Linked DNA regions of Homo sapiens: region 1 is linked to region 2. The links come from fine-mapping of genetic effects on gene expression. A gene starts in region 2. The other region holds a variant in brackets. All regions are shown on one strand. Distances are between the middles of the regions. Region 1 overlaps ARHGEF6 (Rac/Cdc42 guanine nucleotide exchange factor 6). Region 2 holds the start of LINC00892 (long intergenic non-protein coding RNA 892).

Region 1 (5,386 bases), 64 kb before region 2:
AATATAAGTTGCTTCCGATTCATGATGAACAATAGAATAGTGTCTCCTTTAAGAATACGAGTCCTTGCAAGGGACCTAGATAAGTGTTACACCTCTCCTGCCATCCTTAGCTTCTGACTACCCACCCCTGACACATTCACTGACACATTCATCTGGGCCAGAAAACTGTAGGACAGGCTTAGTGACAGAATTTTACCTTTGAAGTCATATGCTGGAAATCCAGGTGGGACAAAAGCAAGTCCAACATATAGAGACTCTTGACTTAACTTGGAGACTAAGATGCAGAATGGACATGGATTCTGGAAGCTGTTCAAGACTGAAAATAATATTCTCTTAATCTGACCTAGATTTGAGCTCCCAGAGCTAGGCTAGAACATTAGTTGACACGAGCCTCCAGAAATGACAGAAATTTTGGTTCTTGTCCTGGTTTATTAAGGTGCAATATTTATTGGCTTTACAAAGATGTTATGTAAGGACATTTTAAAGGTTGAACGCAGTAAGTCCTGCTTGAAGGTCAATTTTATTCCTCTGATAAATTTTGAACTCTTATGGAATAGCAAATATGGAAATTGGAGTTTAAAGAAAGAGAGGTCATGAACCTGGCATTTTTAGGCAAGTGGCTCAACTGCTTATAGCTAACATTAGCTAGTAATAGCACTGACGATGTGCCAGGCACATGATGTAAAAGCCTATGAGGGAGTTATTATTATTACCATCTCTGCTTTACAGATAAGACATTGGAAGGCTTAGGTTAAGTAATGTGCCCAAGAACTCATAGATCTTAAGTGGTTGAGCCAGAATCCAGGTCTGTCAGACTTCTAAAAAATATTTTTATTAAGACATATATTTTATCCACAGAAAGAATAATGTAAATGCAAATTTAAAGGATCACAATAAAATGAGCACCTGTGTATCTACCACCTGGCTTAAGCAATAGAAAGTTACCCTTTTCTTTTCTCCCTCCCCTCCCCTCCTCTTCCCTTCCTTTTTTTTTTGACAGAGTCTTGCTCTGTCACCGAGGCTGGAGCACAACTGCAACCTCTGCCTCCCAGATTCAAGCGATTCTCCTGCCTCAGCCTCCAGAGTACCTGGGATTACAGGCACGCACCACCACGACCAGCTAATTTTTGTAGAGATGGGGTTTCACCATGTTGGCCAGGCTGATCTCGAACTCCTGACCTCAAATGATCCGCCCACCTTGGCTTCACTTGACGGAGCAAGACTCTGCCTCAGACAAAAAACAAAACAAAAACAAAACAACAACAGCAACAACAACAAAACAAAGTCACTGCACCAATTTATTTTCTCACTATCTGTGTATGAGGGTTTCATTTTCTCCACACCCTCACCAAACATTTGTTATTGTCAGTCTTTTTGATTATAGACATATTAGTGGATATGAAGTGGTTTCTCATGGTGAGATTGATATGCATTTTCCTCAGGAATAATGATATTGAGCATCTGATATGGTTTGGTTCTATGTCCCCACCCAAATCTCATCTTGAATTGTCAACCCTACATGTCGAGGGAGGGACCAGGTGGGAGGTGACTGGATCATGGGGGTGGTTTTCCCCAAGCTGTTCTTATGATAGTGAGTTCTCACGAGATCTGAAGGTTTTATAAGGGGCTCTTCCCCCGTCGCTCTTGCTCTCTTTCCTGCCACCTTGTGAAGGAAGTACTTGCCTTTCCTTCTCCTTCCACCATGATTGTAAGTTTCCTGAGGCCTCCCCAGCCATGTGGAATGGTGAGTCAATTAAACCTCCTTTGTTTATAAATTACCCAGTCTCAGATAGTATCTTTATAGCAGTGTGAAAACGGACTAATACAGCATCTTTCATGTACCTACTGGAAGTTCGTATACCTTCATTCAAAGAAATGTCTATTCAGATCCTTAGCCTGTTTTTAAATTGGGTTATGTGTATTTTTATTGAGATATAATTTATATAACATAAAATTCACGATGTTAAACTACGCAATTCAGTGGTTTTTAATATATTCACAAGGTTGTGTAGCCATCACCACTGTCTAGCTCCAGAACATTTTTATTACTCCCCTCTAAAAACCTGTCCCCAGTAACAGTCACTCATTATTAATGGCTAGTGATGTTGCGCATCTTTTCATCTTGCTTATTGGCTATTTTAATGTCTTCTTTGGGAATATGTCTATTTAAATCTTTTGCTCATTTAAAAAATTCAGTTAGCTATCTTTTCATTGTTGAGTTGCAACAGTTCTTTATATATTCTGGATATTAGATTCTTACCAGATACATGTCTACCTTGGAGATACTGTGGATCCAAACCACTACAGTGAAGTGAATATTGCAATGAAGTGAGTCACATGAACTTTTTGGTTTCCAAATGAATACAAAAGTTATATTTACACTCTACTGTATAGTCTATTAAGTGTGCAATAGCATCATGTCTAAAAAAGCAAGGTACATTCCTTAATTAAAGAATACTTTATTGGCTGGGCGTGGTGGCTCATGCCTGTAATCCCAGCACTTTGGGAGGCCAAGGCGGGCGGATCACCTGAGGTCAGGAGTTTGAGACCAGCCTGACCAACATGGAGAAACCCCATCTCTACTAAAAATACAAAATTAGCTGGGCATGCTTGCACATGGCTGTAATCCCAGCTACTTGGGAGGCTGAAGTAGGAGAATCACTTGAACCTGGGAGGCGGAGGTTGCCGTGAGCCGAGATTGCGCCATTGCACTCCTGCCTGGGCAACAAGAGTGAAACTCCGTCTCAGGAAAAAAAATAAAAAAAGTTTGGAGTATTGTAAGAATTACCAAAATATGACACATAGACACAAAGTGAGTACGCACTTTTGGAAAAATGGCACCGATAGACTTGCTCAACACACGGTTGCCACAAAACTTCAATTTGTAAAAAATGCAATTATCTGTGAAGTTCAATAAAGTACACTGCAATAAAATGAGGTGTGCCTATATATGATTTGAAAAAATATGCTTTCATTTTTTGGGTTGTGTTTTC[G/A]GTTTCTTGATGGTGTTCTCTGAAGCACAAAAATTTTGATTTTACATTTTAATTTTGATGATGTCCAATATGTTGTTTTGTTGTTGTTGCTTGCACTTTTGGTGTTGTATCTAAGAAATTATTGCCTAATCCAGGTCATGTAGATTCATGCCTATTTATTTTCTTAGAGTTTTATAATCTTAGCTTTTATATTTAGGTCTTTAATTAATTTTGAGTTAATTTGTGCATATGGTTCCATTTTATTCTTTTGCATGTGGATATCTAGTTGTCCCAGCACCATTTGTTGATTTCTATTCTTATAAATTGAAGTTGTGTTTTATGGCCCATAACGTGGTCTATCTTGGTGAATGCTCCATGTGAGTGTGAGAAGAAAGTGTGACTGTTGTTGAATGAAATATTCTACAAATGTTAATTAGAACCACTTGACTGATGGTTCTATTCAGTTCAACTGCCTGCTTACTAATTTTCTGCTGCTGGATCTGTCAGTTCCTGATAGAGAGATGTTAAATTCTAACCACAATAGATTTATCTCTCTTTTCAGTTCTATCAATTTTTGTTTCATGTATTTTGATACTCTGTTGTTAGGTGCATTCACATTAAGGATTATTATGTTTTGTGGGAGAATTTGCCCTTTTATCATTGTATATTTTTCCTCTTTATCTCTGATAATTTTCCCTGATCGGAAGTCTGCTTTGTCTGAAATTAATACAGCTAGTCCAGCTTTCTTTCAATTATTGTTAATAGGATATATCCTTCTTCATCTCTTTACTTTTAATTGTCATAGATTAAAATATATGTTGTAGACAAAATATATTTGAGTCTTGTTTCTTAATCCACTCTGACAGTCTCATTCTTTTAATTGGCGTATTTAGAAAATTCACATGTTAAGTGATTATTTATATATTTGGATTAGTATCTGCCATGTTTTCTATTCATTGCAATTGTTCTTTGTTTCTTTTTTACCTCTATTTTTCCGCCTTTTCTGTTTTTAGTAAACATTTTATTTTCACTTTTCTCTTAGCATATAATACTCCCTTTAAAAAATTTTACCAGTATCCCTAGAGTTTATGTTATGTATTTACAGCTAAATCTAACAACACTTTCACATAACACTACACAATTTCATAGGTAACTTATAACAGAATATTCTCAATTCCTCCCTCTTATCCCTTATAATATTATTGTAATTCATTTCACTTTTCTATAAAGTAAAATCACCCAATACACTGTTGCTATTATTACTTTGAACAGTTATCTATTAAATCAATTAAGAATAAGAAAAATGAGGCCGGGTGCGGTGGCTCGCGCCTGTAATCCCAGCACTTTGGGAGGCCGAGGTGGGCGGATCACGAGGTCAGGAGATCGAGACCATCCTGGCTAACACAGCGAAACCCTGTCTCTACTAAAAATACAAAAAATTAGCCGGGCGTGGTGGTGGGCGCCTGTAGTCCCAGCTACTAGGGAGGCTGAGGCAGGAGAATGGCGTGAACCCGGGAGGCGGAGCTTGCAGTGAGCCAAGATGGCGCCACTGCACTCCAGCCTGGGTGACAGAGCGAGACTCCATCTCAAAAAAAAAAAAAAAAAAAAAAAGAAAAATGAAATATTTTGTTTTACCTGGATTTATTATTTTTGATACTTTTTTCCATGTATCCAAGTTTTGTTTGTTGTTTTTAAATCTATATCACTTTCCTTCTCTCTGAAGAACTTCTTTTAACATTTTTGCAAGGCAAGTCATCTGGCCACAATTTCCCACATTTTTTGTTTGTTTGAGAAAGTATTCAGAATTCTAGGTTGTCATTTTTTTCCTTCAACACTTTAAATATTTCATTCCATTCTGTTGTTTGCATGGTTTATAATGAGAAGTCTGATACAATTCTTATCCTTGTTCCTCTACAGGTAAGGTGTTTTTCCCTGTCTGGCTTCTTTCAAGATTTTCTCGTTGCTTTTGCCTTTCTGCAGCTTGAATATGAAATGGCTAGGTGTAGATATGTTTTGCTATATATCCTGCTTGGTGTTCTCTGAGATACCTGGATCAGCAGTTTGGGGTCTGTCAATAATTTTGCAAAATTCTTGGCCTAATAGGGTCAACATTTTAAATATTTCTTCTCTTTTCTCTTTCTTTTCTGTCTATATTCCCATTATGCATGTTACACCTTTTGTACTTGTTCCACAGTTTTTGTGTATTCTCTTCCATTTAAAATTTTTTTCTTTACATTTAAGTTTAGGAAATTTCTATTGACATATCTTGAAGCTCACTGTTTCCTCAGCTATGTTTAGCCTATTTGTTAGACTATCAAAGGCATTCTTCATTTCTGTCACAGTGTTTTTTATTTCAGGCATTTTCTTTTGATCATTTCTTAGTGTTTCTATCACTCTGCTTACATTACCCATCT
Region 2 (5,386 bases):
GTGAAAAGCACCACTGTAGAAGTGAACACAGAGTGCTGTGGGAACAAGAAGGAGGAGTACCTACACACCCAGGGGGTGGGGCGGGGTGGGGTGGGATAGAATGCATGTCTGCGAAGCCTCTCTAGAAGCAAAGACACCTGTCATAACTTTGCATCCTGTCTTGCAGCACTCCACTGACAAATCTCAACATTCAGTGTCCATCTGCTGTCCTTGGCCTTTCTAGTCTGGAATCTTCCATCCTTTTCCATTCTGCAGAAGTCTTCTAGTTGGTTATGTTTATTCTGGCACTCCAATGGCTCAGGAAGAGTAACATAGGAGGGGCGTGGGGATAATCACCTCCAGCATAGATGAGTGTGGTTGGGAATGGGGATGTTGGGTGTCTTGATCTGGTTTCTGGTATTAGTTTTCATAGTGTGCCCAGAATCCTCACTCTCCCTTTCTACCAGATGCCTACCTCCATCCCAGGTCCCCAAGGTGAGCTTTCTTGGCACATATCCACTCCAGAGTTGTATCCTAGAGGCAGGATTGTGTCCCCTCGCCACTGCCACACACTCCCCACCCCAAACACAGCAGGAGAGTCATGCTTTGAAGGGAATTCTGGAAGAAATTTCTAGTCATAAGTGGGCTCTTGGGTGCTATTGTAACCCTTGTATGACTCTAACACCTATTGCTGTGAGTTTAGCCAAACAAACAAACAACAACAAAAAAAACAAACCCATAAGTTCCCCACAGCATCTCTCTATATATTCCAAAAGGTTCTCCCATTGATGTTTCCTATGGCAAGACTGTCCGAGGGGCCTTGTGGCTAACACCGAGTAGTCAATATCCTTTCAATAAGTATTTTCCCAGCATTTGGCAAGCACTAGGCTCTCTGATAGGTCTGGGAATCCAAAATGAAAAAGACAGAGCTGCTAGTTAAGGAGATACAAAAGCCAGAGTGGACCACAGTGCACTGGGTAAGCATCCACAGTAGAGAAGTGCAGGGGATTTTGGGAGCATGCAGAAGGAGTGAGGGTGAAGAGGTGACAGACTCAGGGAAGACTTCCTGGAAGAGGAAGCCCTGAAGGAATTTTCTGGGTCAGGAAAGAATACATTCCAGGTACAGGAACTAGCATGTGGAAGGACCCACAGGCTGGAACTCATGGGCTCGTTCTTCTCTTACGGCTGCAGGCTTGGGATCAAAGCCTTCCTCTGGTCTCTGCACAGCACCTCAGGTTCTCCAGTCAGCCCTTAATGTGGAACATGAAATATCAGGTGTTTATAGAACAAAAAGTTCCCTTTCTTCCACGGTGAAGGGTCTCAGGGATGGCATGCTCTGCAGGTGGGCACATAGTTGGCACCTGTTTTCCTTCAAATATCAGCCTGACATGATTGAACATTTAAGACTTGTCTGTGTGGTTCTAGTCCATTTTTTTAAACCTCCCTTGCTCTAGTCTCAGCCTGCCTTTTTTTTTTTTTTTTTTTTTTGAGACAGAGTCTTGCTGCGTCGCCAGGCTAGAGTGCAATGGCGCGATCTCTGCTCACTGCAATCTCCATCTCCCAGGTTCAAGTGATTCTCATGTCTCAGCCTCCTGAGTAGCTGGGATTACAGGTATGCACACCACGCCTGGCTCATTTTTGTATTTTTAGTAGAGACAGGGTTTCACCACGCTGGCCAGGCTGGTCTGGAACTTCTGGCCTCAAGTGATCTGCCCACCTTGGTCTCCCAAACTGTTGGGATTACAGGCGTGAGCCACCATGCCTGGCCTCAGCCTGCTTTCTGCATCTCCCCTAGAGCTCCAGGACTTTAGTAGGCTAGCTCCTGGCTCCACTGCCCAGAAACCCCTCTCCACAGCCTTTCCCCGCCTACCCTGCAATTTACCTCTACCATGATCCTTCTTCTTGACTTAACTCATTCAGGGCTCTCTCTCTCTCTTTCCAACTTCTAACTGGTGTCCTCCAGGCTGCCCTCTTCAGTTCAGACCACAGGCTTGGGCAATTTCTGTCTCTCTGATTCTTCCTGTGGTCTGTTCCTGACAACCCCTTGGGGGCTGTTTGTGAAATGTGCCCTCTGCTTCTAACTCATCTCTTAGGTATCCTCACAGGAGACTGCCTTCTTAGTGGGGGCCTGACGCAGAAGACCTCTAGTTCTCCCACAGTGTCTTCTGGGGCCAGGCCCGCTGTTTCTCACTGAGGCTCGGAGAAAGGCAATGACTTACCATGGTCATGCAGCATGTTAGCGGCAGAGCTGAGAGTACCCCAGGCCTCCTGACTTCCAGCCCAGTAGTCTTTTCCAGGAATCAAGCTGCCTCTCGGAAGACTCAGGTCTTCTAGCCAGCATCAGCTCCCACCCACTGACTGCACTGTGCACCCATCTCTGTTAGCACTTCCTTCCTGAGCCACTTCATTAAAACTGAAGCTGGCCCGTCCAGGCTTCTGACTCAGCAGCCCAGCAAAGAACATCCAGCCATGTCTGCATCTGATTAAGGAAACGCCAGGGGCAGGAAATATATATATATATATATTTTTTTCCTGGCTGAGTCAAGGGGTGCAAAAGGAGGTGGAGAGATTCAGTAAAATAGTTAAGATTTGAGTAGAAGGTAATCTTTCAGCACAAGATGTACCACAGGGACCACAGGGGTGGAAGAGAAATGGAAGGGCTTTATCAAAAGATTTAGGATTACTAGTTAAATACATTTTGGTACAGAAGTATATTACTGGCTTAGAAGGACCCCTGTGATACACTGATAGTGCAAATATCATGGCAGAAATAGGATGTCCCCAGTTTTTTTTTTTTTTTTTTTTTTTTGACAGAGTTCCACTCTTGTTGCCCAGGCTGGAGTGCAGTGGCATGATCTCGGCTCACTGCAACCTCTGCCTCCTAGGTTCAAGCGATTCTCCGGCCTCAGCCTCCTGAGTAGCTGGGATTACAGGCACCTGCCACCACGCCCAGCTAATTTTTGTACTTTTAGTAGAGACGGGGTTTTGCCATGTTGGCCAGGTTGGTCTTGAACTCCTAACCTCAGGCGATCCGCCTGCCTCGGTCTCCCAAAGTGCTGGGATTACAGGTGTGAGCCACTGCAACCGGCCCAGTTCCAGTTTTGTAAAAATAAGTTGAGAGTGTCCCTAAAGTGCTTATGAGTAGTAGCTAAAAGTTCCCCTCCATGCTCTGCACCCATGTTAATTTTTGCCCACAGGTAGATAATTGGAAAACAATTACCACAACCTTTGATAGCTATTGTGGCACGGGTGTTCCCCTGTGAATAAGTGGAGTTGGGAATCTTTCTTCATCACAGTGCCCCATGGTGAACTGCGCCATCTTGGTAAGCGTGGACCTGGGACAGTTTCCACTAGAGCACTTCCACATATAACTCAATAGCCCGTATCTTTGACATCAGGATGTTTTCTGACTTTGAGGAGAAGGATGTCCTGGTACTCCTTGTCACAGGGTGGCTGATGCCTGGAGCCCTCTCTCTCCCCTGACATCGGGGAACCAACCACATCTGAAGCAGTTTCAAATAAGCAGTAGGGTTGATATCTGTTCTGGGTTGAACAGTGTTCCCCTCCCCAAATTCATGCCCATGTGGCACCTGTGAATGTGACTTTTTTGGGGGGGAAATACTTTGTAAATGTAATTAGTGAAATTAATATAAGGTCAAACTGAATTAAGGTGGGCCCTAATTCAATGACTAGTGATCTTATAAGAAGAGGGAAATTTGAACACAGACAAACACAGAGGGAAAACAGCCATGCAAAAACAGAGGCAGGGATTGGAGAGATGTGTCTACAAGCCGCAGAACATCAAGGATTGCTGGCAACCATTAAAAGCTAGGAAGAAACAAGGAAAGACCCTCCCCTAGATCCTTTAGAGAGAGCATGGCCCTACCAACACCTTCAAGTTCAGACTTCTGGCCTCCAGGACTGTGAAAGAATACATTTCTATCATTTTAAGCTCCCCAGTTTGTGGTAATTTGTTATGGCAGCCCTTGGAAACTAATACAACACTTCTGTAGAAGAAAGTGGCTCCATCTTTTGAAATGCTGCTCCAATCATGACCTGAGCAGAAAGATGTTCATCAGCAGAGGACACACAGTCAAGCGGAGGAACCGCATGGCTCTTTGATTATGCTCTACACTCCTCTACATGTGCACACAGAAACAAGTCTGCAAGGTACCACAAGACTTGTGTCTGGGTGATAGGTTCTGGGGTATCTTTATCTTTTTGCTTTAACTTGTCTATATTTTTGAAGTTTCCCACAATGAATATGTGCTACTTGTGTAAAAAACATGTATCTATAGCTATATCTACCCATCATCTATTTATCTATCTATCTTTAATCATCAGATTTTTGCCATTGAAAGTAATGGTAAAACCACAATTACTTTTGCACCAACCTAATACTTGTATTCTCTATTCTCATGCACTTGCAGAATCCTTCCAAATGAAATAGACCCAGGGTACCTTCATTTCTTGTAGGCCCAAAGCTAGGAACTACTCCCTAAAAGTGGTGGCAAGGATGAGGGTAGACGATAATAAAACCATATGTTTATATGGTATTGGATACTCTTCAAAGAGCACACCTCTGTATCTGTCGACCCATTCAGCCTGATACCCCTCTGATAGATGAGAAATCTGAGGCTCCAAATTCTAACTGTTATCTTCCACGCTGCCCTCTTCAGTTCTGACCCCAGGCTCAGGAAGTTGTTAAGCAGCTCCTCCAAGGTCTCATAGCTAATAACTTAGGGTCTTGATGCCTGGTCCAGCACTGGTTTCTAGAATGTAAGATCCATCCATAAGGGCAGGGCCTTTTTGTCTTTTTTATTCACTGGTGTATCTCCAGCACTTAGAATGGTGCCTGGCATATAGTAGGTGATCAGTAAATTTTCACTGAATGAATGTATATATAATTACAGTGTGATGAAAGCAAGCCCTTCTGGAGAAGTATCTTCTGCCACTAGGAACATTTTTGTTTAGGCCAGGCTGTTGTGCTCTGCAGAAGGTAAGCAGGGCTGCTGAAGGGGTCCTGCTCTCTTTCCAGTCTCTGTCCTTCCACAGCCTGGCCCCCAGCCCCAGGTAAGAGTTAGCTAATTCCTAGAGCTTTGACTCTCACATCATCTACACGGAGGCTTCTATGTAGTGTGGTTCAAGGCAGGACTGGAAAAGGCTCTTTGTCCAAAAATAGTGCCACTCAGCAAAAAGATCCAGGGACAAGGGAAGGGCAGGCCAAGTGATTTGGGACCAGGACAAGGAACAGGACACAGCAAAAAATATTCAGGGAGAAGGTAGTGGAAAGGTGCATGGGACAGTTTAGGAACAGAACAAGAGGGGTGCAGAAAGTGTCCAAAAACAAGTCAGGAAGGAAAATCTTGGTGAAACAAATGGGAAAAAGGAAGGTGGGGGTAGTGCA

What was found.
Region 1: its variant is fine-mapped to the expression of LINC00892 in whole blood (TOPMed, PIP 0.98).

What each region holds. Positions count from the first base shown.
Region 1 is chrX:136,700,900-136,706,285 of GRCh38, reverse strand. The region is part of intron 9 of ARHGEF6 (Rac/Cdc42 guanine nucleotide exchange factor 6); the gene reads left to right. Among named protein-coding and RNA genes, the nearest start is that of CD40LG, 55 kb to the right of the region's middle. The variant G/A (reference allele first, on the strand shown) is at 2,994.
Region 2 is chrX:136,636,617-136,642,002 of GRCh38, reverse strand. LINC00892 (long intergenic non-protein coding RNA 892) reads right to left here and starts at 2,460. Exons shown (of 3, transcript NR_038462.1): 1 at 2,199-2,460; 2 at 1,163-1,229.